4 linked regions of the Homo sapiens genome follow. The protein of the gene in region 3 purifies or fractionates together with the protein of the main gene of each other region. This does not show direct contact. Each region holds a gene or a part of one and is shown on either strand. Other genes may lie near its edges. The genes, in order: NR2E1, YAF2, DCAF6 and CALN1.

Region 1 (7,027 bases), on a different chromosome or scaffold from region 3:
TCCAGCTTCAGGAAACTCCGGCTCGCCTCACGTCGGAGCTCGCTCGGCTTGCTAAATGAGAGGAGCTTTGCAACGGGGTCAACCAGCTTGTCTCGTGACCCCAAGTCACCTTAACGTGGCTGGGTGGCGGAGTCTGAGGCACAGGCCCGCTATGCCCCGGAATTTTCGCGTCCCTCCCTCCTGGGCCCCGCCCCAGCCCGGTTGCCTGTTTCTAATCTGCCCCGGGAGCCGCGGCTCAGAGGTCTGCTCAGAGGCAGGACTCGCACTGGTGGTGGCCTAGAGGGCAACAGTCCGGAAGCTCGGGCGGGGGAATCCGAGGAGGGGCCCCCACCCTGCACTGGTCTTCCCTCCACCCTCATCGGGTTCTCCAGAGATGTTGTCATGGGCCTCCTGTCCGGATGGGAAGTGGGGAAAAAGAGACCCCACCACTGCTCCTCCCACTCACTCATCTTGGCATCTTCAACAGTGCCACAGGGAAGAGGACAGCTGGGGTGACAGTACTGCTGGGCCCCAAACGTGGACCCTGGAGCGGTCAGAGGGCGCGTGTTAAGCAGAGGATGGTTGTAAGATATGGAAACCAAGTTTACCGCTTCCAGAGTGAGTGCAGTGCAGCGGAGCTCCAGACCCGGTTCCTGAGCGACCAGGAACTCCCTTGGGCGCAGTGACAGGCCCGAAGGAGTGGAGGACAAGACCCGCTGTGCCCTTGCCTGGCCCTCTCCAGCCCCTCCCTCCCACAGCACAATCTCCCCTCCCGCCCTGTGGGAGGGGGGCGCCGAGCCGGTGGCCGCCGCGCCGCGCGCCTCCCCTGCCCGCCTTTGTCGCCGTCCGAATTCCCATGCTACTCTTTTTGACGGGTCACTGGTGGCTCTATAGGCAGGTGCTGCCGCGGGGTTGTAATTACCCGGCCGAGCCTGGTCGTTACCGAACACCCCCTCACCCCCAAGCACGGTCCCCCGCGCTCTCCTTCCCCCACCCCCTCCACCTGAGACGAGTCTGGGACCCACGGTGCAAGCTCGCCCGGACGCCTCGGGTTCCAGGAGCAAGTTTACACCTGCGGTGCCTCGAGGCCCTCCCCGCGCCACGCCCTCACCTCCCCTACTCCCCTCGCCCAGACGTTCCACTGCCGCCCCTTCCCACCTCAATCCCATCGTAGTCCCCAACCCAAGCGCTTTCGGCAGCAGCTGTCGAATTTCAGGGAGGCCTGAGGCCGCTGGGGCCCAAACTGGAGGCCTTCGGATAGGTAGAAGAAGAGAAAAGCAAGTGTTAATAAGTCAATTGTTATCAACTATTGTTATTTTTAAAATTAAAGTGTTAATTAAGTTAACAGTTTAATACTCCCTTTGTTTTGCGGGAGGAAGCATTTCTAAGTCCCTATAAACCGCTTCAGGCACTTGTTGGACTCTTGAACCTTAGAGGAAAAGAATCCCTCCCTTTCTAAACGGCCAAATATTACCCTCTCCCTGACACTCCTCCAGGGTCGGTGGCCACCCCAGGCTTGAGGGGATTCCAGGGAAAGTTCTCTTGAGGTGGGGTCCATGGGGGGTGGGGGGATACAGCCTAGAGAAATCAGTCAGATTCTTAATTTAAAAAAAAATCAGGCTCAAAGAGCACTGGAAAAAACCGGGAGGAAGAGATCCACACAGGACCAAGTGTGTGGAGGCCAGTCTTCTAGGGAGAAAGGGCTTAGGAAATGGAGGGAGCCTGTCCCAAGCTAACCCGACAGGGAACCGACAACTTGCGTCGCTCCCCTCTCCCTTGCCTAGTCCCGAACCACTTTGCGGAGAAAATAATTTTTTCCTAAAAGAAATAATTTCTCTAAAGCGACTCACCAAGCATTTTTTAAATAGGTAAAGCGAAAGTTGGCCAATTACCACTACCCTTATTATCATTAATAATCCAAGTATTAGCATTACAATAATAATCCTAATAATAACACCGCCCGGCGGAGCTCAGAGAAAACTCGATTGCCTTCCAGCTGCCATCCCTGGTTCCAGCCGTGTTTGTTTTTCTTCTTTTCCCTTTTACATTTCAAGTTTGTCTCCTCGCGCGCTCACTAACAACTTTCTCTGTTAAATGCAAAAGCGAAGGAGGGAGGCGGCCAAACTTTCCGCGGAGCAGAAAGGCAGTGGAGGGCCGCACTGCCGCCCGGGCCTGCTGTCATCTTTTATTCCAAAATGGGTCTCGGCGATTAGAAGAGAACCAAATACATGTAGCGGTGCATGAATAATGCTCATTGTAGGAAACTGACACTTGCTCAAGGAAAAAAAGTTTGGGTATAAAATCACTTCATTATTTGCTTTTACCGCAGCTTCGGTGCTAATCCCTTCAGAGGTCAGATTGCTTAGCATCTCTCTCTCCCTCTCCCCTTTTCTCCCTCTTCTCCGCCCTCCTTTCCCTCTCGCCCCTTCCCCCCTTCCCCGTCTTTCCTGCGATTTCAGGCCGCATTTTAGATATCCCCTGCAAAGTGTGTGGCGACCGCAGCTCGGGGAAGCACTACGGGGTCTACGCCTGCGACGGCTGCTCAGGTTTTTTCAAACGGAGCATCCGAAGGAATAGGACCTATGTCTGCAAATCTGGAAACCAGGTACCTTAGCCAGGGCTGCACTGCTGGGCTCCGCTCTGCTGCCTCCTCACTCTTTTGTTTGTGCCAAGGCCTCCTCTGAGTTTCCACGCAGTTGAGGAGAGACCCGGCCCTGACCTCTCCCTTCCTCTCCCCTCCTTCTTGCCTCAACTCTTGGAGGCCCTTTGGCTGGGGAAAGGCGGGAAGAGGTAAGGGAAGATATGAGTTTACAGGAGGGAGTCTGAAGTCCTAGAGCCTCCCTACACTTTTTTAAATTATTATTATTCTGAAAGATTTTGACACTGGGTAAGGCCCACACCCTGTGGCTCTAAAGCCGGCCCAAGGGACCTAAAGAATTTAGCATCTAAACCACAAGTAGCAAGCAGGAGAAAGAGCTTTGTTATTGTGCCTGCCCACCCCACACTCACTCCTAGCAGCATCAAGCTCAGTCCCCTGATCACTTGCCTGGGATGCAGAAGTAAGCGGCACACAGACATCTGAGTCAAGGTCACCACCACCTTTAGCTGAGACCACCAAGTGAGTGCTAGCCACTTGGAAGAGAGGCCGTGCTTTCTGAAGGGTTGTGCATTTTCAACTCTGGAGAAGCAGGGCTGCTCTGGAAGTGGGCAGTGGGAATCCAGCACCCATGTGACCTTAGCTATGCCTTGTCAGAAAAGGGCAGGGTGAGGAAGAAGAGAAGATTCAAAAGGAAGGTGCAACTGGGACCCTCCTCAAGCTTCCATATCCCTGTCCTCCTTCTCTGCTTAGAATTTGGGCCCAGTCGGTTGTTTTGGTCTTGAGTAGGCAGAACTGTCTCAAAGAGACAGAGGAATCTGGCATGGGCTGAATATGAGCCAAAGCTTCTAGAAAGAGTGAGCAGAACCTCTTGACTCAGTTTCCAGCTCAATAATAGGCTGATTTTAACTAAGGAGATCAACCTTCTGGTCCTACACTTTGCCCTCTCCTTATCAGCGACTCAGACCCTCAGTACAGAGTCCTCCATTTCACTTGTGGAAAGATCCCTGAGGGTGCATTAGTCAGCAGTCATCCTTTGGTAACAAAATAGTAAAACACTTTTCACTAATTGATATATATAGGGTACATGTATACACATGCATATATTGTCTGCTGCTAGTGAATTGTTCTGACATCTTTTTCTGAAGTCATGTCTGCTCATATTGTTTTCTAATAGTTTTGGATTAACCACAAAAACAGAAGATATTTGCATTGAGATAAATTTTGAGCTCTCTAGCCCTGTTACCTGTTTAATTGGCTACTGTATCAGTTTCTAGCTTCACCATATGGACACATCACATTTTACACGCATAGGACTGTATCCCAATAACTCCACAGGATTGTGCGATTACTGCGGGTTGTCAGATTTGAACCAACTTCTACTTAGATTGTCTTTTGCTTTTATGCAGTGAACAGAATTGGAAAATCAAGATCTCTGATGTTGTGCTTGATCTTTTAGAAGGGGATGGCTATCAATTCAAGCATATTGATATCAGTCCAAGTGCTTGTAAAGGACTGATAATAGACTCATCAGGCCTGGTGTTCTTCTTGCAAGGAGAGTAAATGATCAGAGCTGAGGCGTTTATCCTTCTCTCTGGCGCTAGATATTTATATACATTTGATCTGATTTGAAGACACACTTAAGAACTTATGAAGGTTTCCATTTTGCATTTGCATACTTATAAGAATACTGGAAAGATACCATCTGAGGATAGATATATAATTACATTTAATAACAAGTTTTAAAAAACCTGTTTACAATGAACTATTACATTGGCCAGCAAAGATGCCCTAAATAATTCACTTTGGACCCAAAAATTATCTCCTTTCTCTCTTATTCTAGGATTAAATTATATTCCAATTTATTATTAACAGTAATGAGGACATTTAGAAATGGATATGAACATCTGTCCCACCTTTATTTTAAATAAATCATCATAATTTAAATTGGAGAAGTGTGAACTCATAAAACTGCATTCGAATGTGTAATTTTCCCCTAAAGGGCTTCAGGGGGAAGAAAAACATACTTACTCCAACTCCAGAGTATATGAATTTTTGAGATTATGAAGCAAAATAAAAATACATTTATTATCTTTCTTCTCACTACAAATCTAACAGTAGCAACTTCTATAAATATAGGAGAGCACACAATGTCTTAAATATTTTCTGTGTATAAAACTCATGCACATGACTCTTTATGTATCTATGCATATGTCCCCTCGGTAATGACATCTAACACTGAATAAATTCCAAAGGAAACTTTATCTGTAGATTTCCTCTTTCAATGGCTAATGTTTTTACAGAAAATTGCATTAGGTAAACATCTAATTTCTCATGCATCTCAGATAAATATTTCTAAAGAAGTGACTACCTTTATTTTTTCAGTTACTATGCTAACAGTCTGAGCCCATATTATCATTTAGTCTGACAGTCCATCACATTACCTTCCTGGTCCTGTTTACATGGTGAGCATTTCTATATTTTGCTCAAGACTTGAGCTCTTCCTTTTTCACCCTCATCTTCTCTAGGCCTTGCCCTCCTAAACTCTCACCTTCCAGGAAGGGCTGTGTTTCTATGCACCTGGGCCGAGGCTAGTCTTTAAGGCAACTCTCAACTTGCTGATAATAAGGTTGGCTTCATACAAAAGCAAAAGTGAGGTAATAGGAGAGTGAAGAATAAATGGGAGAGATTTATCTGATAGATAAACGGGCTCTCCCAGAAAGTGGCAGAAAGAGGTAGACTCAAGTACTGAAAGCAGAAAGAATCGTTGGTGGGAGGGCGGTATGGTGTGAATCCTGACCCAAAAGCCAGCTCTTAACGGAAGGAACTTAGTGGCCTCTTTCTCTGGGGCCAAGTCGCTGTCTTCGGTCCTGAAGTCTCGTCCCTGTTCCACCACTCCGCGACTGGCGGAAGTTCCCCTAGCGAGAGCCCCGCAGGCCTGCGGGGTCTGCCAAACCCGGCTCTCTAAGCTTCACCTGCTTGGAGAAGGACGTTTCCCCCTTGTCCGCTTTCTTGGGGTCCGGGACTGGCCCTCTTGAAGTAGCCTGGGACGTCCCAGCCCCTTCTCGATCTGGCCCTGCTCATGCCCAAGGCCCTCGCGTTTTGCAGGCCCAGGCTCGGGGCTCCAGGGCCTGCGGCCGGGCAAGGTCGCGCCTCCACACCGTTTCCCCGCCCGGGTGCCGGCTCCGGGTCTCCAGCCTAAAGGCCCTGGGGACCGCTGACCTCCTGCTCTCTGTTCCAGGGAGGCTGTCCGGTGGACAAGACGCACAGAAACCAGTGCAGGGCGTGTCGGCTGAAGAAGTGTTTGGAAGTCAACATGAACAAAGACGGTAATCAGTGCATCCCTTTATTCCAATGTTGATTGAGTAGTAAGTAAATTATATGTACAGAAAATACATGGCACTCCTATGCATGTAAATCAACCCCGGAGCGCTTCTTTCCAGATGCTGGGAATTGGCCTCGGGCTTTCAGTCGTATCCTTCCCGTCTTTCAGCAGGAGCCGCTGGCGACCCCTAGAATTCCCCAGGGCAAGACCCATGCCCACATCAGGAACTTGCGCCCCACAGTCATCTCCACACAGGCAGCGCTTGGGGGGACCCCACTCTCCAGGGGACCGGCGCGCATTTTCTGCCTCCGGTCCTAATCCCTCTTTGCAGCCCTTCGTGGCCACCCTTAAGCCTGCTAGCCTGCCCCAGGATCTTAAAATCTGGATAGTCTCACGGGGAGGAGATCATACAGGCTGGAAGTTCGCGGTGTGTTGAAAAAGGGAGGGCAGAGACGCGAAAACGCGGAATTTCCAGCCCGTGTGCAAATTCTCCAAGATGCCAAAATCAGTACGGCCATTGGGCCGATGTGAGTCCAGGGCCTTCTCTCTGTTCTACAGAAAAGAGGGAAAGGGGGCTGGAGAGGCAGGGTAACGCCCGTGGGTGCCTCGGACACCCAGCTCTCCCAAGGCTCTTAAGCGCGCAACAGCAAGAACCAGGACGTCAGAGTGCTTCCTGGGCCTGGAGCACGGTCCGAGCTGCGTCCCCCGCTGCAGCCTGTCGAGGGCGCCCCAGGCCCAGGCAGGGGGCGAGGGTAATGGGCTGGAGGACACCGTGGGGCCTGGGAACAGGGTGCGAGTGGGTTTTGCTGTGAGGCGGCCCGGGCCGGGTGGCAGCTCCAGGAGGAGAGAGAGCCCCTTCCTCTGCGGCGCAGGAAGCCGGAGGGAGCGTCCAACCTGTTGAACTTGTGTATTGACAAGTTGTCAAGCTCGGCAGGCCGAAGATTGCCCTGAATTAATTTGTTTGTTTAAACTGTTGGTGGTAATTGTCACATCTCCCCTGCCTTTCTCCAGCATACTCGGAGACGGGTTCTCCCTCGTTCCATTCCCTAGCAATCCCGGGGCTCGGGTCCTTTCCTCCTGCGGCCCTCGGAGGCCAAAAGCTATTTCTGTGGGGGCGGGGCCTGCGG
Region 2 (7,027 bases), on a different chromosome or scaffold from region 3:
TCTGTCTATAATAACTCCTCCTCCTGTTTTCTCTATCACAACACACAGTTTTTTTGTTTTTAATTTTTAGCGCATGAGGGCAGGGCCTATGTTTGTCTTGTTCATGGTTAATCTCCTTACCTAGTGCCTGACACATGTAAATGTGCAATAAAATTTATCAAACAAGTAGTTTCTTTTCTTTTTTTTTTTTTTTTTTGTTCCAGAAGACAGGGTCTCACTCTGTCACCCAGGGTGGAATGCAGTGGTGTGATCGTGGCTCACTGCAACCTCCACCTCCTGGGCTCAAGCGATTTTTCCACCTCAGCCTCCTACAGGCGCGTACCTTTACTGGCCAATTTCTGTATTTTTTTTGTAGAGATGGGTTTTCACTATGTTGCCCAGGCTGGCCTCGAACTCCTGGACTCAAATGATCTGCCTGCCTTGGCCTCCCAAAGTGCTGGGATTACAGGTGTGAGCCACCACGCTTGGTTGTAAACAGGTGGTTTTTTATAAAATCTTTCCTAGGTTAGATTTTTGGGCGTTTGTTAGCCAGAGTATCAACAGATTCACAATATGTATGGATTTAGTCCAGCCTTTTTTTTTTGATGAGATTTACCATATCGCTTCAATTTACCATATATTTTGGTGTTACTAAGCAGATTACTTCTTTTGAAATTTGAGTTATGCTGCCTCTTTTTAGTAAAGAATGTCATTGTTTTTAATACTCTTTTTCTTTCTTTCCTTTCTTTCATCTTACCTGTCCAACATGACAAAGCTAAATTATGATGAAGTTGATCAAGCTGAAAATATTATTCCTCTAATATTTAGCACATGGGATTTTTGTCAGTGGGGGTGGAAGGCAGACCGTAGTTGAAAATTGCATATATGAAGCCAACATGTATTGACCTCCTGCTCACACAGAAGGTCAGCCAGCTCCAAAAATATTTTGTCCTAATGCGTAATAAAATGTTCCCCCTTTTCTTACATTATAGTAAATCAACAGACTGCAAAACTTATACCTTCTATTTGGGCTATCTATGAAAGATACATAGGGATCCCCAAATTGGTGAATATCATATCTGACAAATACAGTCTAATCATGGCATATGTGAATAAGTAGATGATGGACTGTAGTTGGCCAGTGGCTAGACAGTAGTCATTTATTAACTAGGCAACCATTTTGTGCACATCAACTCCTTATCACAGAACCTTTGGCATTACTAAAAGTGTACTGTCAAAACCATGAGTGATAAATCTGTGAACATAAAAGGGTATATTTTATAAATGATACTCTGCCCTTTATTTCCTGAGTTAACTATTTCCTACCTCTAAAATTTCCTCCTATCCTGATTTTTCTCATCAAATAGAAAAGGGATCACAAACCTTAAGATACCTGGAGATAGAAGGGCTTTATTTTTAATAGGGCATGGAGTTGAGTGACTTACGATGTTGTAAAAAGATCATCATAAACTGTGTTCCTCCTACCTTCAGTGAAAGCTCTTTAGCTCCTAGAGAGCAGCAGAGAACTTTATTTGAATAATTGAACTATATACATTTATGTTTTGTGCTTCTTTTCTCTCAGAATTGAACCAGATGAAATAATCATAGAATTGAGGTACAAAATCATAATCTTTAAGTGAAAATCAACCTTCACATTAAAATAAGAATAAAAATGGAATAGTTGTGTAGTATACATTTAGGTAAGCCTAGGATAAAAAGAGAAAGATATGCAACTACTCAAGAACAGAAAAAAAGAACCACTATAGAAAATTTGTTGATGGTTAGAAAATAACAACAAACAACACTAGGTACAGAGATTACATGATCATTTATTAGACCACTAGTCTCACATTTTTACTTCTACTGTAGTGTAGTACCTTTCTATTTCAGACTAATGCCAGTAATCTTTGTAAAATTCAAGTCTGAATTTCTTCAGTGACTTATCATCACTTAAGGATAAAATCAGACTGCTTAGCTTTTAATCATGGGATCCCTTCTTATCTGTCCAGCTTGGTTTTTTTTCACTCTGCCACTCTGCTCTCCATCTCAAACTTTATCTTATAGTAGTAACAGTATTCACCAGATATATTGCATTTCCTCAAGCTTTTTTTTAAAGTGTGGTCCCCAGAGACATCAGCATAACTTGGAAACTAGTTAGAAATACAGTTTCTTGGGCTCTACTTCAAGGCCTACTGAATCAGAAATCCTGCGGGGTAGGGCTAAGCAAGCTAAACAAGCCTTCTTGGTGATTCTGATGTACCTTATATTTGAAAACCACCACCTTAACCCTTTTCTTTTTTAACCTCAGCCATTAACTACCATACTTTCAATATCACTTTTATTTGTGCAACTCTTAATCTACATCTCAAACTCTATGTCAGTCCTATTTTTTAAGTTGTATATTGGACATCTGTCCTGGATATCCTTTCAGTAGTTCAGACTGTCTAGGCCCTGAGCAAAATTCATTATCCATCTCCTGATATCTGCTTTACATACTGTTTCCTATTTTCTCTCAGCCATGCAGCTTTAATTCTTAGATTGTACAATATTTTCTCATTATTTTTTATGTTGTCTTGCCATAGAGGAACAGGAGAAAAAAAGATTTTTTAAAAACTGTACTAACCAAAAAAGGGTGAGGATTTTTCAGGCAATAAAGTTACCATTGTTTGTAGAGCATCTGTTAAAATGTATTTTTATCTTACTTCTTCCCTCCTTCCCTCTGCCTCTTTCCTTGCTATATCCTTCTTTCTCTCTTAAGAACTTAGAGACTGTATTTTGAACCTTAACCTCAGTTGTGCAAGTTCTGTGGCAAAGCTGGACAGGTGAAAGCTTGTACCAGCATCAGATGTTGAAGCCAGGCAACATTTCAGATATCCCTGAACAGTTCTTACAGTAGGTCCTCAATAAATATTTTCTAAATGAGTAAGTTAGCAAGTAGATGAGTCTCAAAAGACTGGGCAGATCTCCAGGGTCAAAAGAGCATGGTGAGATTGTGGCTGGAGATGTAAGAAACTTAAAGGATTTAAGCAATAAGGAGTGAGAAATTTTGATAATAAATGTTTATTAAATGAATAAATGAAAAGCTTTAAAGAACAGATAGCCATTGTCACAAATGGTCAGGTATTTCCTTCTCTGAAGGAGGGATAAATTATTATTTCAGTGAAAACTTTGAAGTTTGATTTTTAGAACTCATGTTTATATGGGTACATCCCATTTTTTTTGATATACATTTAAAATAATTTCTTATGTTGATTTACGTAACAGTATTCTAATGTTTGAGCATATATCTTAGACTATAAATTTTAATTGTTATAGTTTGTTCCATTTTTGTTGAACGGGAAAAACTGATACATATCTTTAAAATTGTATATTTAAATTACCTTACATATGAGGAATTTTTATACTTGAAAGTTATTGTTATTAACTTGTTTTCATAATGTGAGATATTCTGTCATAAAGCACTTATGTTTTAAGTTGTAATTTAAAATACCTTTCTTTTTAACATGCACACAGGAAACCTCGACCTGTCTCCCAGTTGGTTGCACAGCAGGTTACTCAGCAGTTTGTGCCTCCTACACAGTCAAAGAAAGAGAAAAAAGATAAAGTAGAAAAAGAAAAAAGTGAAAAGGAAACAACTAGCAAAAAGAATAGCCATAAGAAAACCAGGTAAATGTGAAGAGTGTTTTATGACATTTTTGAAATAATAAAACCATTTAATTTTTTTAACCTTGACATACTAATATACACAAAGTGGAAGTAAAATATTTGGTCTCCTTTATTATAAGGTATCAGGAAAGGTTTTACTGAGTTTGAAAGATACATAGGAAATTAAACACAGAAGCCAGAAATACAAGCTTAAATGTGATGATGCTTTTTTCTTTTTACGAGATTGGAAGACATTTGTGTCTGGATTTGTTTTGTTTTGTTTTGTTTTTCCCTTAAGAAGAGCTATTTGAACCAGGAGTGGTTTTCAACATACCGAACAGATAATTGCATGGGTTTTAACCTATCAAAATGGTCATGCGTTCAGTCATAACAATCATGATACCCTTATTAGTGTGTGTCAGTGGAGTAACAGTCTTCCTTGCATATAGCTCAACCTTAGCTTTTATCACCTTCCTCCATGGTGCAACTATTTCATTGTTGTCTAAAACATCTATTTTAATAAAATTAATAAGCTGTCTGCAAAATTATGATACAGCTATAGAAGCACAAGTTCTACTTCTAGGCTGTCACAGTTTTTTGGTTGCATTGAAGAATGTTCATGAATGATTGGTTTGATTAATGTTAATGAGTTGAAACATTTTATGATGTTTTTGTGGCTAGTTACACATAAATTGCCTTAAATACATGTATTCATTTTGTTACTTTTACCACTTTTATTATTTATTATATGCTCAGAAATTTGGTAGAGGGAAAAGCTAGTTTAAAATTTCATTTTTTTATGTTTAGGCCAAGATTGAAAAATGTGGATCGGAGTAGTGCTCAGCATTTGGAAGTTACTGTTGGAGATCTGACAGTCATTATTACAGACTTTAAGGAGAAAACAAAGTCACCGCCTGCATCTAGTGCTGCTTCTGCAGATCAACACAGTCAAAGCGGCTCTAGCTCTGATAACACAGAGAGAGGAATGTCCAGGTCATCTTCACCCAGAGGAGAAGCCTCATCATTGAATGGAGAATCTCATTAAAGTTTATTTTCTCCAATTTCTTAGTCACTTCTGTCCTACCATGCAAATACACAGATTATGCCAAGAGGTACCACATTTTCATGACAGATACATTCATGCACAATCCATAATTTGAGTTTTACATAAAATAGAAATTTGTTAGAATTTGTTAGATTTTATTGCAATGATGCCTACCAAACATTTCCAGACTTAACATTTTGGTCTCTGCAGTTAAGTGCCATGAAAATGTGGTTGAATTATTCATTATGCAGTGTTATTGGTAAGTGTATTTTCACTTTTAGTTTAGTGAATTCTAACACATAATTCTTGAATTCTCTACTATTGGCATGTAACGAATTTAAATTTTTTATAACATAGTGCAAGCTGCCTAAATATGTATTATTTGAGAATTGTGAAACAGATAGTTATATGTATACAAGTCAAAGAACAACTTAACTATTGCTGCAACAGGTTTTTCTTAATGGTTATCCTCTTAAATACACCTGCTGGTACTTGGTGTGGTTAAATAGGAAAATTGTTATTAAATAAAGAATTTGTATGAACCTTTGCCAATGTTTTTGACACGTTTTACTAATTATTGTTCCTGAATTATGTTTCTGGTTTTATCTATTTTTTGAGGTTTTTTTGTTTGCTTATTTTTCAAAACATTCATTTATTGTAATGTTTACTAGCGGACTAGTAAACAATAAAACATTGATTATTTAGCTTTATAATTCAGGTTTAGTGCTATTGTCATTGAACACTGGTATTTTCTGTATCATATAAAACATTAAAATTCAAATAATTATAAGCATTTGGCAAAAACAAGAGAAAAGAAACTTGCCATATTTTACAAGCTGCAATTTTAGAAAAGCTTTAACTTAATGATAGTTTTATCATTGTTTTCTTGTCCCAAACTTATCCAGGGCCATAGAAGTATGAATCTAATTAAAACAGAAATGGGAATTATTGCACAGAAATGGGAAATAACTAATTTTAAATCAGTCAAATTGGCTTCTTATTAAATACAATAATTCTTATGAAAATCATAGTACCCTATTTTCAGACACAGCTGCCAGTTTACACATTTCTCAGTATCCTGAAAGGAAAAAAGTATAGCCCCACTTATACTATGTAAAATTACCAATAAAATATTTTTATGACTACAGATTTTGCATTTTTGTTTACAACTATTTAAAGAGTTTTATGTTGTATTTAGAATTTCAACCTAGAAACCACACAGTACTTAAATTCTCCTGGGGTCTCCTGCTTTCTCTTAACCATTTGCTTAATATATATCTACCTAAAGGAGACTTCTGAATTGTAAATGAACTTAAAAATAGAATGTGGATGCAAAATATCACATAAGACATCATGATAACATTTGAAGAAAAAATAAAACTGTAGACCCTAACAGTTGTGATATTTGGTGGTTTCATGTGGTAATGTAATTTTCTGTTTAATTACAGTACTTTTTACAGGCACAGTGGTACTGTCTTTTTTGTAAGATGCTAGTTGTGAAATACAATTAATTGCATACAGTAAAAGTCTGTGATTAAAACATTTATATACCTCATTCTTTAGTGTTGTTAAATGAAAAATTAAAATTTGTGTTTATTATAAGATACTTTCAATGGAATACCAGCTAACCAGATATGTTCCTTTAAAACATGAATTTTTTTGTCTTATTCTGTTTTTAACATGTTTCAAATGTTTTATACATTTTTGGAGATAGTAAAAATTTAAAAATGTAATAGGGAAAATATTTAATTTTTAAGTCAAAAACTATGCTTTAAAGGAATTACATCTTATGATCAAATAACTTTCAGGATGTATTTTAAATGAGCTGCAAGAGAGAAAAATCTGACAGGAGATGGGATTTTACCTGAATGGAGCATACTCATATTTCTACATAGGTGGGAAGATACTCATCTTTCTACATAGACGGGAACACGGTGTAGCATGGAGATTAAGCGTGCTAACTGACACCTCATGTTTGAATCCTGTTGTAGAATGGAAATGAGCTTAAATTACCCAAGCTTACTTTCCATCTATAAAACAGGGCTAATAATGGTAATCACATCTAATTTATAGGGTTTTTGGGAGGATTAAGTCAATCCGTGTAAAATTCTTAATTATCTGACACATACTGGTCACTCAGTAAATGTGAGCTTTTACCATTGTTATAGGTAAAATCCCATTACAAAAATACAAAAATATTTTTTGTAACAGTTATTTTCCTGCCCTCTTGGATGACCTAAAGTAATAGTGTTTTATAGATTTCACTAAATTTTCAGTGTAATATCAGATGTTTTCTCTGGATGCAGAAAGACCATCTTTCCATAATTAAAGAACCTGGTGGGTGTGCACTATGAGATT
Region 3 (7,027 bases):
AAGGAAGTTGGCCAAGTGATAAGCCAGGACAAGGGCTTCCCAAGCATACAGAGAATAACACTAAGAACAAAGTGTAAGAAGGAAAGAGGGAAAGAAAAGAAAAGACAGGAAAGAGAGAAAGATGGGAAAGGAGAAAAAGGAGAAAGAGGAGAAGGAAAGAAGGGATGGAGGAAAGAAGGAAGGAAGGAAGGGAGGGAAGAAGTGAAGGAAGGGAGGGAGGGAGGAAGGAAGAGAGAGAGACAGAAAGAAAGAAAGAGAGAGAGACAGAAAGAAACAAAAGAGAGAGAGAGAAAGAAAGAAAGAAAGGAAGGAAGGAAGGAAGGAAGGAAGGAAGGAAGGAAGGAAGGGAGGAAGGAAGGAAAGAAGAAGAGAAGAGAAGAGAAAGAAAAGAAAATGGCAGGGCACAGTGGCTCACGCCTGTAATCCCAGCACTTTGGGAGGCCGAGGAGGGCGGATCACAAGGTCAGGAGATTGAGACCATCGTGGCCAACACGGTGAAACCCTGTCTCTACTAAAAGTATAAAAAATTAGCCGGGCATGGTGGCAGGCGCCTGTAGTCCCAGCTACTTGGGAGGCTGAGGCAGGAGAATGGCGTGAACCCAGGAGGCAGAGCTTGCAGTGAGCCGAGATCACGCCACTGCACTCCAGCCTGGGCAACAGTGCAAGACTCTGTCTAAAAAGAAGAAAAAGAAAGAAAGGAAGGAAGGAGAAAAGAAAAGAAGGAAGAAAAGAAAGAAAAGAGAGAGAGAAAGAGAGAGAGAGAAAGCAAGCAAGTGGGAGGAAGGGAGGGAGGGAGGGGGGAGGGGAGGGGGTGGGGGCAGGGTGGAGGCGGGGTGGGGCGGGGGAGGGCAGGGCAGGGCAGGGCAGAATTTGGCACGGAAATTCTCTGATAACCGAAAGAAATCAGTAGTACATCTAGAGTGTAACAATCATCAAGTACTGAGAAAATTGAATGAGATGAGGCTAGAGAGACAGGGAAGGGCAGGCCATATAAATTCTTATACGTCCACAGTGAGGAGTTTGATTTTTTTTTCTTTTGTAGTTGTATTTCCAAATGCAATTAGGAACTTCTGAAGGGATTTAAACAGCAAAGTTATATAATCTGATTTAACATGTTAAAATACTCATTCTGGCTCCTGCATGGAGAATACATTATAATGGAACAACAGTAGGTACAGGCAGATTAATTAGGAGACAAGAAATGATGGTGAGATGAAAAGACCCAGGTTATAGTTTAGATACAGGAACAAAAGAACTTGCTGATGAGCTGGCATGGGACTTGAGGAAAAGGAAGGAATCAAGAAAAACTCACAGGTTATTCAAATAAGCAAATGGACCAAGAAGGAGCCAATTACGGAACAGGAAGGGTAGGAGGCTGCATTAAGTTTTAGTTTGAACATGTAGATTTATGACGTACAACAATAGGCCGGGTGCAGTGGCTCATGCCTGTAATCCCAGCATTTTGGGAGGCCGAGGCGGATGGACTGCTTGAGGTTAGGAGTTCAAGACCAGCCTGACCAACATGGGGAACCCCATCTCTACTAAAAATACAAAAATTTGCTGGGTGTGGTGGCAGGAACCTGTAATCCCAGCTACTTGGGAGGCTGAGGCAGGAGAATTGCTTGAACCCAGGAGGGGGAGGCTGCAGTGACCTGAGATTGTGCACTGCACTCCAGCCTGGGTGACAGAGTGAGACTGTCTTTAAAAAAAAAAAAAAAAAAAAAAAAAAAGATGTACAACAATAACAAAAACATACTGTCAAAATAGCAGTCAGACATCAGGCATAAGGGTCTGGAATTCAGGGTAGAAGATCAGATTGCTGATATATATATTTGTGAGTCATGAATTTACAGGAGATATTAAAAGCTATGAGGAACTGACACAATCACCCAGAGAAAGAGTGTATGTAAAGAGAAGAGAAGAGAGCCCAAACTAAGGGGTTTGATTATAATATTCAGAAGGAGATAGAACAAGAAACACGAACAACAGTTACTGAAAACCCACCAGAATTAATAAGAGTAAATAGGCAAATATGATATCATAGATACCAAGAAAGGAAAGTGTTTCAAGAAGGAGTGACAGCCTATGTTAAATGCAACCGGGTCGAAAAATCTAGTAAGGTACTAACAGAGAAATATCCTTTAAACTGGTGAATGTCACTAGTGACTTTGATTAAAAGTTTCAGAGGAAAAGGGGGTTGAAAAGCAGATGGGGGTTGGTTAATAAATAAATGAAGGATGGCAAGAAAATGGAGAGAGCATCTATCAACAACTCTTCTGAGGATTCTCATTACGAAAGCAGCAGAGAAATAAGGCAATAGCTGAAGGGGAATGTGAGATAATTAAGAGAAAATTTTTAAAGAAAGGAGATAATAAGAGCATGTTAAGGCCAAAAGAAACAATTTGGCAAAAAAAGGCAATGATAATGCAAGAGAAGGGGCGAAATCTTTGAGAAGCTGGAAAGGGATAGCAACTACATTGACTAGCTTTTGATAGGAGCTTTCTGCTTCTATCACAATGTGAGTACAGATGTTGGAAAGCTGGGAAATTATTGACAGTAGGAAAACGAGTACTTTTCATTGTGAATGAAAGGTTAGAATCTGGAAGTGGGGCGGGGATGAAGGGAAGTATTAAAGTTTGAGAGACATGAAAGTGTAAAATAGTCATTTTGTACAGCTGGAGAGCAACAGTGTGAGGCTGCTCTGATGCACAGTGTTGAGCACCCATTGAAATTTGTGGTCATAACTTTCTTCATTATCATTCAGTGATTCCACTGTAGACTAAGAGAAGGCAGACAATTAGGTTCAACCAGAGATGGAGCGTAGCAAATTTTCATATTCCCATTGTCCGTTTCTTTGATATCAGTAAAAATGAGGGAGGACATGTAAAGGGATAAACATTTACATAAAAAGGTATCCACAGCAAGGCAAGCATAGACAGAAGTATACTTTATCATTTTCTCTATCTCTATGCAGGGAAATAATAGAAATCATGGTCCTAAGCTGACATTTCCATCTACTACATTCACCCAATGGACAATTCCCAATATTCACAAACACATTTGGACTTAGGCTATGGCAAATGCAAAAGAGATTGGACAAAAAACAAAAACAGAAACAAATTAAGTCCTTACTCCTGAAACGTTGAACTCCAGAATAATGAAAAAGCTGTTATCAGAACAACTACAGTCATAACCTTCAGATGTTACATCTAACACCAAATCATTTTTCTCAATAGTGATAATGTCTTGATAACATGGAAATATTCTAATTATCTATAGCTTAGTCAACCAAAATTCTCTCAATAATCTCCCAGTTAAAAATATTTCCTTACTTCCTATAAATAATTTATGAGTAAAAGTACTGCATAATGTTTCAATAATCATCACATGACCACCAAAGATATTTTTTCTTCTTCAATAATTCAAATGATTGTCACATTTAATACTTACATTAAATATTGAAAGGAATTTAGCAATTTGAAATGCAGTAATTAAAATGCATTAGATAGCTTTAAAAAATAAAGTTCCAAATACTTTACTCATAAATATATTTAAGAAACAACTAGAATTAGTTGAGATTCAGTGGAAGCTGAATGTAAGCTAGAGTCTTCTTGCTAAGTTTTCCTAAAAACTTATAATTGATCAATATGTTCAAGAATATCACTTTAAAAATTCTTGCTTTTCCCAATTTTACCTGCTTTGAAAAACAAACTTTTAACTACTTCTGCTTTTAATTCCCAAATCTTCCAAAATATTTTATTTTTCCATAAATTAAAATGCTATGTCAACTGAGTGTGAAAACCTTGATTCTGTAGCTCAGCTTTAGCTTATTATTATGGATAAAATGTATACAGTGTTAACAGTTATGTAACTGACTCTGGCTTTTATTCCCATAGAAACTGAAAATGAATTACTAAAAGTGGTATATACTGATAAAAGAGTGCTTAAATTAAAACATCCCATATTTGGTAATCTGGCATCAGTTTCCAGAGATGTAAGAATAAAGTGACAGCTTGGCAGCTAAGCTGTTAGAAATTTTTTTATAGGTTTCAGCTTAGGCCTGCCAGCTATATTTCTAGTTGCTAATAATTCTGGCTCTATATTGAGTAAAATTCTTCCTTAGAAGAACCAAAGAAAACTATGAATAAATATCTTATTGGTTTTTATAATTACATGTATATAGTTTAAAGTACCGAGTAAACTGTAGATACATCTGCTGAAAATTACTATTATAAATACTAGCACATTCCATAGTTAGGGGAAAAAAGTTGACCATAAAGACTTATAATACTGAGAAAAAAATAGCATTTTAACAGAACGTAGAGGTTATTTTCACTAGCATCAAGTATCAAGAAGATAAGCATTTGGTAAAATAATTCTTTTTCATGTAAATACTAGAGAAACAAATTTTTTGGTAAATTATATGTTGTTGACAAAAGACCATATCAAATCCACCATAGAGAGTATATTAAAAGTACTGCATTATTTGAGGGAAATAATCAAGAATATAAGCAAAGTGAAACTAATACTGATATTTTCATAATCACTTTAATATAGACATAAAACCAAATAAATCTAGAAAGATATTTTGGTCTCTAATAATCTATAAAATAATATTTAAGTCAGGCACATTAAACTATGTCAAAACACTATCTTTTGGTACTTGTACTTTTAAAACAATTGTTTTATATAAATTGAAGATTCCTGCTATTTGTTAAAATTCATGCAAGTAAGACATAATTAATTTTTGTGTTTAAGTTACATAACCATATATTACATGTCATTTTGATCATTTATTCCAACAAGAAGTTGATGTGATTTAGTATCTTTCAAAATAGCCAGTAAAGAAATTTTCACTATCAAAAATCATTAGATGAACCACAGCATACTTATCCTCACCAGACTGATGATGTGTGTGGTGTCCAGATGCCTCAACAGACTGCCTTTGTTCACTGTCTGGAGAAGATAGCAAAGGAGTAGAATGAGGGCTTTCTGTGGGAGATGATGTCGAATGAGCCTGAGCTGACATTGTAGAGGATGTAGAAGGCTGAAGAAATTGTTCAGCTGGAGTATCTACTTCCATTGCAGTTTCACTCACTTCCAAATCAGGACTTGATGGGACCGTAGGAAGAGTTGAAATATCTGATTGACTTGTTCCACCTTCAAAACACATGTTAAGGCAAATTCAAATTTTAAATATTTTCTAAAACCAACAACTCTAAACAGATATGCTCAGAAAACACATTTATATTTACACACACAAATATATAATTTCAGTGATAATAACTACTGGTGATTTGGCCCATTTGACAAAATAGGCCAGTCAAGAGGGATAAAAACTTATCTACAACATATTCTTGTTAAAGCAATCAATCTTTCCTATTACATAAAACTTGTTTATACACAGAATTTTATATATTTCCATTCTCAGAGTGCATTAAAAAAAGGCTTAAAATAGGAAACCTCAGATTCTTCTACTTTACTTTGAGAAAAGCAAAAGATACGCACTAGGTCCAATGGCACCAGAAGGGACAAATTATATCCAATATCTTTTATTCTCTACTACTTCACACCACACAATAAGAACCTTGTGATTATTACAGATGTAAAACATGGTATAATTTACATGATAGAAATAAAAACTGGCTTCAATAAGTAGTTTTTGCCAGCTTTCTGATGACTTTAATTAACATTAAAAATTACCTCTGGGTCGAGATCTTCCTCGTCCTCTATTGCTTTGTGCAACCTCACTTGCTTCTTCAAACCATCTTGATAACATATCAGACATTCTCTGCATCAATGACACATTGGGACTCTGCTCTCCTATTACAATATAGGTCTTATCAGTGAGTTTAGTAATAAGTCAGAATCTTTCATTAATACAAAAACCTAGATTTGAAGGGCTTTAAAATGAAAGCATATTTTTAAAAATCAAATTTCCTAAATAAATTGTATGAATGTATATAAATCTATTAGAGCTCTCATCACATTTTATAGTAATTGTTTATATCAGTGACTTTCCATGTGTATGGTAAGGTTTCTTGAGAACAGGGCTCACCTCTCCTTCATCTTTGCCTATTCTTAGGTACCACTAAACCTCCCACTTCCTACCTCAACCTAAATTTTTAGTTCTAAGAGTACCCAGCCAAGAAAGGCTCATGAATTCTAAGTTTAATAGATTAAAAGAAAGGTTTTCCCTCTCCCTAAAGCATTATAATCAAGTACAGACACAAAATAGCCTTATGCTTTTGCATGAAGTTTCCTTAAAGTCAATTTATTTTCAACATCATTTACTGTAAGCAAATTTCAGATATTTGAAATTAACTGGAACCAGAAAGTATTTTGTCTCTTCCCTCACTCCTTTTCCTCCTGCAAGTAAACAAGTTTTTCCAAGGGTATTTTCAAATTAAAAGTGTAATGTCAAATTCAAAATGTGACAACTCTATTCTATAGTCTTATAATTTAAAATGAAAATCGGTTCTTCTTACATTTTCTGTGAAATCAGAGTTTCTTTTACACTTTATTGCCTTTATATAATGTAGCTCATATATTGGGGAATATGCTTTTGATCACAAGAGATGTTTCAGAAGTCATTATAGTAAGATTTTGGTTACAGACCAATTTAATAAAACATAATAATATAGAATTATAATTCATAGATTAATTCTATTTTCAAGTGTGCTATCTTAAAGCTCCCAGGGTTGATTCTTATGCTTATCAAAGGCACTTGATAGAAAACATTTTATGTGCTAATATAAAACCCTTGGGCTGAGTTTTCATTTCTCTTAATATCTAATAGAAAGGCAAAAACTGCAAAGTCTGACAATACCCAACGTACTATGGGGTAATGGGCATTCTTATACTTTCAGTGGGAATGTAAATTAGCACATCTTTTTTGGAGACTAATCTGATAACAACTACCAAAATTAAAAGGTACTTATCCAGTGACTGCGCCATTCCACTTCTAAGAATTTATCCTAAGATATATTTGCATAAGTATACCTATATGTATAAGAATGTTCATTAC
Region 4 (7,157 bases), on a different chromosome or scaffold from region 3:
TACAGCGTGAGCCACCGTGCCCAGCCGGGTTCCCGGCTTCACTCAGGAAACAATTTAAGGCTGAGCCAGTGGCAGAAGAAAACAGCTTTATTGAGGTAGCAGCATTACAGCTCTGTGACTACTCCTGCAGAGCAGGGGTACTCCATAGGCAGTGTGTGGAGAGCAGCAGCTCAGGGGCAGTGCTGCAGTCATATTTATACCCACTTCTAATTATATGCAAATTAAGGAGCAGGCTATTCAGAAATTGTTAGAAGAGGGGTGGTAACTTCTGGGTGTTGCCATGGCAATGGTAAACTGTCATGGCACTGGTGGGTGTGTCTCACGGAGAGGTGCTTCCAGGGCCTCTTCCCTATTTTAGCCAGTCTTCAGTCTGGTCTGGAGTCAAGTCCTGCCTCCCACCTCAACATCACAGGTGGAGACTGGAAAATGTCAAGGGTAGGGCGAAGGGAACGGTACAAGCATTGGTGATCAGCTTCAGAAGCAGACCCACAACCTTAAAAGAAATGGAGCCCAGGGCTGGGGCTGTTTGTTTTTGTCCTGCCTCTAGATGTGGGATCCTGGTCCCTGGGAACAGATCAGACTCAGGCACCTGGGTGGGCACTGGCCAAAGGAAGCCCTAGGTGAAGGAGCGTGGTGGTACCTGCAGGCGGTGTCACCGTCCAGTAGCGCAGTTCTATGCCCCCCGCGCCCCCCGTACCCTCACGGGCCTCTGCCCCACTGCCTGGGACCCTGCTGTCTTAGTCACCGCTCAGGCTTCCAGCATTTTCCCAGGAGGATCGACGAAACTGAGATTGTGAGTTGGTGGCTCACAGGCCTGGTTCAGCCCACAAACAGGTTTGTTGTTGTTTCTTCTTGTTTACTTGTGTGTTTGTTATTTCTTCTTGTGTTACTTGTGTGTTGGTTTTCTCCCAAAGTGTTTTGAAACTTAGAAGTTGTTGCCAGCATTTAAAAAATCAGCTGATTTATTAACAATCTGGATTTCCAGCTCCTCTTTAAATCATGACATCTGGCAATGCCGGGCCATACTCACTCATAGCAACAATGGATGGGTGATGAGTCGTGGCTACCGCCTTGCACAAAGGGAGCCACTTCCTCGTGGTCTTTGCCTCTTGGCATGACTGCTGGTCCCTGTAGGCATTTGAGCTGGCATGCCCCGTTTTATAAGAAGGAGAAAATACAGGTGCATCTGGAGTGGATGACACAATGGTATGAATTAGACCCAGGTGCTCCCACAGGGAGAAAGATCTAGGTACCTTGTAGTAGTCTGCTCAGGCTGCCATAACAAAATACCATAGACTAGCGGGTGGGGAGCTTAAACTATACCTTAACAGCTGTTATTTTCTCACAGCTATGGAGGCTGGAAGTCCAAGGTCAAAGTGCCAGCATGGTCAGGTTCTAGGGAGGACTCCTTTCCTGGCTTGCAGACAGCTGCCTTCTTGCTGTGTCCTCACATGGCAGAGATAGAGATCCCTCTCTTCCTCTTATAAAGCCACAGTCCAATTGGATTAGGGTTTCACCCTTAAAACCTCATTTAAAATGACCTCCCCAAACCCCTATCTTCAGATATAGTCACATTGGGGTTGAGGGCTTCAACGTAAGGATTTGGAGGAGGGACACAATTCACTCCATAGCATATGTGGAATTCAGGATATATATTTGGGGGCTGGGAAGGGAAATTAAATGACCAGTGGAGTCTTGGGCCATCCAAGCATGTCACAAAAATGGAAGGAAACCATTGCCATGAAATGGATGAACTTGGCAACAGAGAGGGGTACAGAGCTCATGTTCCCCCATCTACAGATACTGCTTCTCAGTCGTCCTGGGAGAAATACAGCTTATGGCAAATTCAGGACATCCTCCCTTCAAACATTTGCTTGAATTATCCAGACTGGGGGCCAACACTGGACTTCCAATCTCTGCTGTTCTGTAACGTCTCTGGGAAGTTCTGTGCTGCCATGCTAGTGTTAGGGTGGAGTGGGGAGTGAGTTCAGGGAGGCTGGTGTGAGGGTCTTGCCACCACCCATCCCAGGACCCCTGGTCTGGCATCAAGAAGGCACTGGCCTGCAAGAGAAGCTGTGTGACCCTGGGAAGCCACTCAGCCTCTCTGTCTCGCTCTACCCAATTGTGAACTAGGGGTTGATCAGGTCAGTTTCTTTTGTAGGTCACTCTTCATGTTGGTAGATAATTTTAAGCCCTGGTTAAGGACACTGCTCTGTAGTAGGTGCACAGAACGAAGGATTCGGCCCCAGGACTCAAGGAGGCCCATGGGCCTCTGGCTCCAGCATGGGTCTCTTGAGCTTCCCGCCAAACTCTAGGATCCTGGATCTTCCCACGGTCTGCCTCCAATGAGTGAATCCGTCTCATACCTCACTGCTCCTGCTTGGCGAGGGTGATGGGAAGATACGGTATTAGTGGGTAATTAAGTTATTAGCTGCCAAAGCTTAATTGCTCTCAGGAGTATTTTAATTGTAGCAGGGGACTCAAAAACAGAAAGCCTTGGAGACAGCAGACATCATGGAAACAGAAGGAAGGGGGAGTATATGTGAGGGTGCATGTATGGGAGTGCGGTGTGTACGTGTGTATGTATGTAAGAGTGTGTGTGTGCATGTGTATACGAGTGTGTGTGATGTGTGTGCATGTTTGTGTATGTGCCATGCATGTGAATGCATAAGTGGGAATGTTTGCGAGTGGTGCGTGTCTGTGTAGTGTGTTTGTTATGTGTATGTGTGTGCATATGTGCTGTGCGTGTGTGTATAAGTGTAAGTGTATATGTGTATGTGTAGTGTGAGTGTGAATGTATATGTGTATGAGTGTGTGCATAACTGTGAGTTTATATGCGTATGTGTAGTGAGAGTGTATATATGTATGTGTGCATGTGTTAGTGTGTATATGTATGAGTGTGTGTGTGGTGTGCATGAGTGCATGCATGTATGAGCTTGTGAGTGTGCGTGTTTATGAGTGTATCTGATGTGTGAGTTTGTGTCCTTATGTGAGCATGTGTGGTATGAGTATGCACGTGTGTCCATGTGTGGTATGTGAGTCTATGTGAGTGTACGTGTGTGTAAGAATGTGCATGTGTGGTGTGCATGTATGAGTATGTTCGTGGGTGTGTGTGGATGAGTGTATGTAAATGTATGTGTGGATGTGAGTGTATGTTAGTGTGTGTATGTATACGTGTGTGTGTACATGTGGTGTGTGTGTGCATGTGTGTGTGAATGTATATGTGTGTATGTGTGGTGTGTGTGAGTGTATATGTGTGTATGAGTGTGTGTGTGTGAGTGGGTGGGCACAAGTGTCAGTGTGTACATATGAGTGTATGTGTAAGCATGTAAGTGAGCATACGTGTAAGAGTGTATGTGTGCATATGTGTCTAACAGAACCTGCCTCTGTGATCTCTGCCAGGGCGTCCATCAGTGCAAACCCCCCGGGTGAGCCCAGGTCTGAAGGTGGCCACCAGCCACTGGCCTACTCCAGGTGGGCTTAGCGTGAGCCAGCACAGCCATCAGAGAACCTTCTCGGAGCTAGACCAGCTGCCCCAGGAGAAAGAGGGTAACCCTAAATATTATCCTACCAGGAAAGCCAGGCCTGGGGCTGTGGCCTCCATGGTCTGGGTGCTTCCTTTTGGAGGTGGGAGATGGATTCTCCAGGGAGAGCTGGGCCACCAGATATTTCTCTGTCCTGTGGCTTGACTGCTTCTAGAAACTTCCTGGGCTGAAAGCAAGGGACTTTGACAAGGGCTTGATTTGGAATGTGGGGCATTTTTATTGTTCCAGTTTGTTTTTCCCAAAGCAGGTTCCATGGGGGAAGGGTGAGGGGACAAGGGCTGGGGCTGCTCCTCCAGCAGTGGCCCCTGGGTGTGAGAGGTGAAGCCAGCTGGGCTTCTGGGTCAGTGGGGACTTGGAGAACTTTTCTGTCTAGCTAGAGGATTGTAAATGCACCAATCGGTGCTCTGTGTCTAGCTAGAGGATTGTAAATGCACCAGTCAGCATTCTGTAAAAATGGACCAATCAGCACTCTGTAAAATGGACCAATCAGCACTCTGTAAAATGGACCAATCAGCACTCTGTAAAATGGACCAATCAGCAGGACATGGGCAGGGCTGAATAAGAGAATAAAAGCTGGCTCCCCGAGCCCGCTGGGGAAGCTCGCTGGGGTGCTATCCGCTTGAGTTTGTGTTTTTTTCTTTCCTGCTTCTTAATAAAGCTTACTGCTTACTCTGGGTCCGCGCCACCTTTAAAGCTCACGGCCGCGGTCTGCGTCTTCGTTCTTGAAGTCAGCAAGACCGCAAGCCCACCGGGAGGAGCAGACGACTCCGGACGCGCCATCTTTAAGAGCTGTAACACTCACCGCGAGGTCCGTGGTTTTATTCTTAAAGTCGGCGAGACCAACAACCCAGCAGAAGGAATAAATTCCGCACACAGGTGGGCACAGAAACTAAAGAGCATGGTGGGCTCAGCTGCATGCAGTTCCCAGCTGGGCCAGGTTTGGGAGCCATCTGGGTACTTTCATAGTCTGGAGACAAGTTCCGGATTATGGTGGTGTTTTAATCTATGATTTTTTCTTTATCGGTTTATGATACCTCTCTAAAAGAGAGTTGCTTCATCAACTATTTGGTTATCCTGGAATATAATCTGTATGGAAAAAGCAGGACAATTGTTTGGTTCTTTTCTTATTACTTTAAAAGAGTAATTACTTTATTCCTTAGCAATTACATTCATGTCAATTTTCAGGATAATGAGTTGTACCATATTTGGTGATTGGCTGTGTCTTCCAGTTAGTTTCTCTGTCATTTGGCATCATTGAGAACTTATCCACTTTTAGGCCTGACAAGACTTTTCGTATTTCCTCCCATGGAGCTGATTACTTAGCCGGAAGTGGTATTTTGAGACTACAATTTGAGTGCTCATTGCCTGAGTTTTATTACCTTGACGTCTTTTCAGTGACACAACTGATACGTCCATATTTTTTTAAAGACAAAAATAAATTGAGTTCACAGTGATATTTTTATTCAAACTAGATTTCAGAGTTTTTACTTAACCTTAAAATTGTTATATTTACAGCTCTTTTCTCTAACATAGAAAATCTTGATTCCTAATGATGTTACATGAATCTCTTTTGTATGATTTCTTTGTGGTTCTTTTTGTCCTGAGACTTAGGTCTCACGTGGAAAGCTCAGTCAAAATATTATGTTCTAAAGTAACTTGAAAAAAACGGTTTTCTCTGTAGTTAAGCCATTAACTTGAAATACAGTTGTGTTTGCATGTTTCAGTTCATTTTCTATTTTAAGGAATTGCTTTGCTTTTTCCTTTTGATAGTTTTTTTCAAATCTGTAAAACCTTTATGTTTGCTCTTATAAATAGGCTCTGCTCATACATTATCTTCTGTTTCTACACATGTCCTGTTAAATTCTGTATGTTGGTCTTATTCTAATGCTTTACTAAATTCACCTATTATTTGTAATCGTTTTTTCATGAATTCTTTGGGATTTTCCATACATATAATCATATCACCTTAAAATAACTTTATTTCTTTTCCCATCTTATGCCTCTAATTGTCTAATCATGTTGGTTAATGCCTACAATACAGTGTTAATAGTAGCAGAGATAGTAAACATCCTTGTATTTTTTCTGATTTTAGCAATAAAGTTTCTAGTGCTTCTTGGAAAGTAAGAAGGTAGGGTGCTGGCTCGTGAGCTGATACGGAGGTGTGTGTATTTATGTTCAGGAAATATATATAGTTCCCTATTTTACTCTGATTTTCAATGTTAATTTAATTGTGAGCCGTTCATAGGGTCTTGGTTTTCATTTTGAAGAACCAGGGTTTAGGGTGTTTTGCTTATGCGAATTTAAGCCAGGACATGAAGGGACATTAGGGCTCCTGAGAAGTCTCACTTGCAGAAGAATTGAGCTGATTTGAAAAGCTCATTTCAGTTTTCAGATGTGGACTTAAAATTTTGGCTTTGCTTGTGTATATATTTTATTTCCGTGATATCTAATTGGTTTTGGGCAGAGATAGGGAGAAAACAACTTTGATTTTACATCATGTAGAAGGATTTCGCTTTTGCATCTTTCAAGGAATTCCATGGACATTTTCTACGTCCTAGATTGGCAGTTTTAGATTTCTTTTTTGTGCTTTTGAATACATCTTAGTAGTAAGATATTCAAAATGATGGCCAACAATCACCTTTGCAGAGTCAGTAACACAAGTGCAGTGATGAGACTTCATTGCTCATAAGCAGTTAAGTAGATTTGACAACCTCTCTTACATATTTAAGAGCTCCAGGCTCTCATGTTCCAGCAAATGCAGGGCTTAGCTTTGGGGCAGGCTGGAGCTCACACTCTGCCCTGTCGTCTTTTTTGTCAGCAACTCGTACCCCATTACACACCATATGGCATGACCCGCACAATGGAACATTTTGTCCAAAAGATATCTTCAAGAAAGAATTATGTTCAGTTATAACAAAAATAAATTCTTTTTGTGGGTTAAATGTGGTGCATCTTTGCAGGGTTTTAGAGGAAAGGACCAAGGGGAAAACCATTATCAAGCATTACAGGGAAAAAACTGATTATAATGTGGCCCTCAACAATTGTAAAATCTAGCAGAGACCACAAGATGCAAAAGAAAAGACTGTAACTTGATGCCCAACGTGGTTAAAAGGGAGGGAACGTTCCTTGGTGATTCTTTGAATTGGGTCTTCGAGTAACAGCCTGGGAACCACTGTTCCATGGGGTCCCAGAGGCTAAAAACCATTTAACCCATGCTTATGAATTATTTATGCCCATAAACAATGCAGGTTCATCCCTCTCCATTCCCAAACATTAGATTTTCAGCTCAATCTTGCTCCCAGTGATTGGAATTTTAGATACTTTGAAAGGGATCAAATCCATGAAAGACTTTGGTGTGCTGAGTCTGCTTGTAACCCATGCACCAGATTGGTTGCTGAAGGCCACAGACGCTGAAATAATGAGGTTGGCCAGTCCACTCAGACTATCCATATGCCTCCTTCCTCAGAGGCTGGCACAGAGATCCGTTTAAGATTATACTCTGCGCCAGCCTCTGAGGAAGGGAGGTATGTGGATACAGTCTGAGTGGACTGGCCAACCTCATCATTTCAGCCTCTGTGGCCTTCAGCAACCAATCTGGTGCATGGGTTACAA

What was found.
Region 1: the proteins of DCAF6 (region 3) and NR2E1 purify together in Homo sapiens (affinity purification with mass spectrometry; 4 studies listed by BioGRID and IntAct, with this or other methods). This does not show direct contact.
Region 2: the proteins of DCAF6 (region 3) and YAF2 purify together in Homo sapiens (affinity purification with mass spectrometry; 3 studies listed by BioGRID and IntAct, with this or other methods). This does not show direct contact.
Region 4: the proteins of DCAF6 (region 3) and CALN1 purify together in Homo sapiens (affinity purification with mass spectrometry; 3 studies listed by BioGRID and IntAct, with this or other methods). This does not show direct contact.

Annotation. Positions count from the first base shown.
Region 1 is NC_000006.12:108,169,020-108,176,046, forward strand, and holds part of NR2E1 (nuclear receptor subfamily 2 group E member 1), read left to right. Parts: intron 1-2,438; coding exon 2,439-2,584; intron 2,585-5,816; coding exon 5,817-5,904; intron 5,905-7,027. UniProt on the Homo sapiens protein: Orphan receptor that binds DNA as a monomer to hormone response elements (HRE) containing an extended core motif half-site sequence 5'-AAGGTCA-3' in which the 5' flanking nucleotides participate in determining receptor specificity.
Region 2 is NC_000012.12:42,158,231-42,165,257, reverse strand, and holds part of YAF2 (YY1-associated factor 2), read left to right. Parts: intron 1-3,492; coding exon 3,493-3,645; intron 3,646-4,431; coding exon 4,432-4,669; 3' UTR 4,670-7,027. UniProt on the Homo sapiens protein: Binds to MYC and inhibits MYC-mediated transactivation. Also binds to MYCN and enhances MYCN-dependent transcriptional activation. Increases calpain 2-mediated proteolysis of YY1 in vitro.
Region 3 is NC_000001.11:168,002,666-168,009,692, reverse strand, and holds part of DCAF6 (DDB1- and CUL4-associated factor 6), read right to left. Parts: intron 5,824-7,027; coding exon 5,704-5,823; intron 5,161-5,703; coding exon 4,900-5,160; intron 1-4,899. UniProt on the Homo sapiens protein: Ligand-dependent coactivator of nuclear receptors. Enhance transcriptional activity of the nuclear receptors NR3C1 and AR. May function as a substrate receptor for CUL4-DDB1 E3 ubiquitin-protein ligase complex.
Region 4 is NC_000007.14:72,409,322-72,416,478, reverse strand, and holds the start of CALN1 (calcium-binding protein 8), read left to right. Parts: upstream 1-4,140; 5' UTR 4,141-4,421; intron 4,422-7,157. UniProt on the Homo sapiens protein: Negatively regulates Golgi-to-plasma membrane trafficking by interacting with PI4KB and inhibiting its activity. May play a role in the physiology of neurons and is potentially important in memory and learning.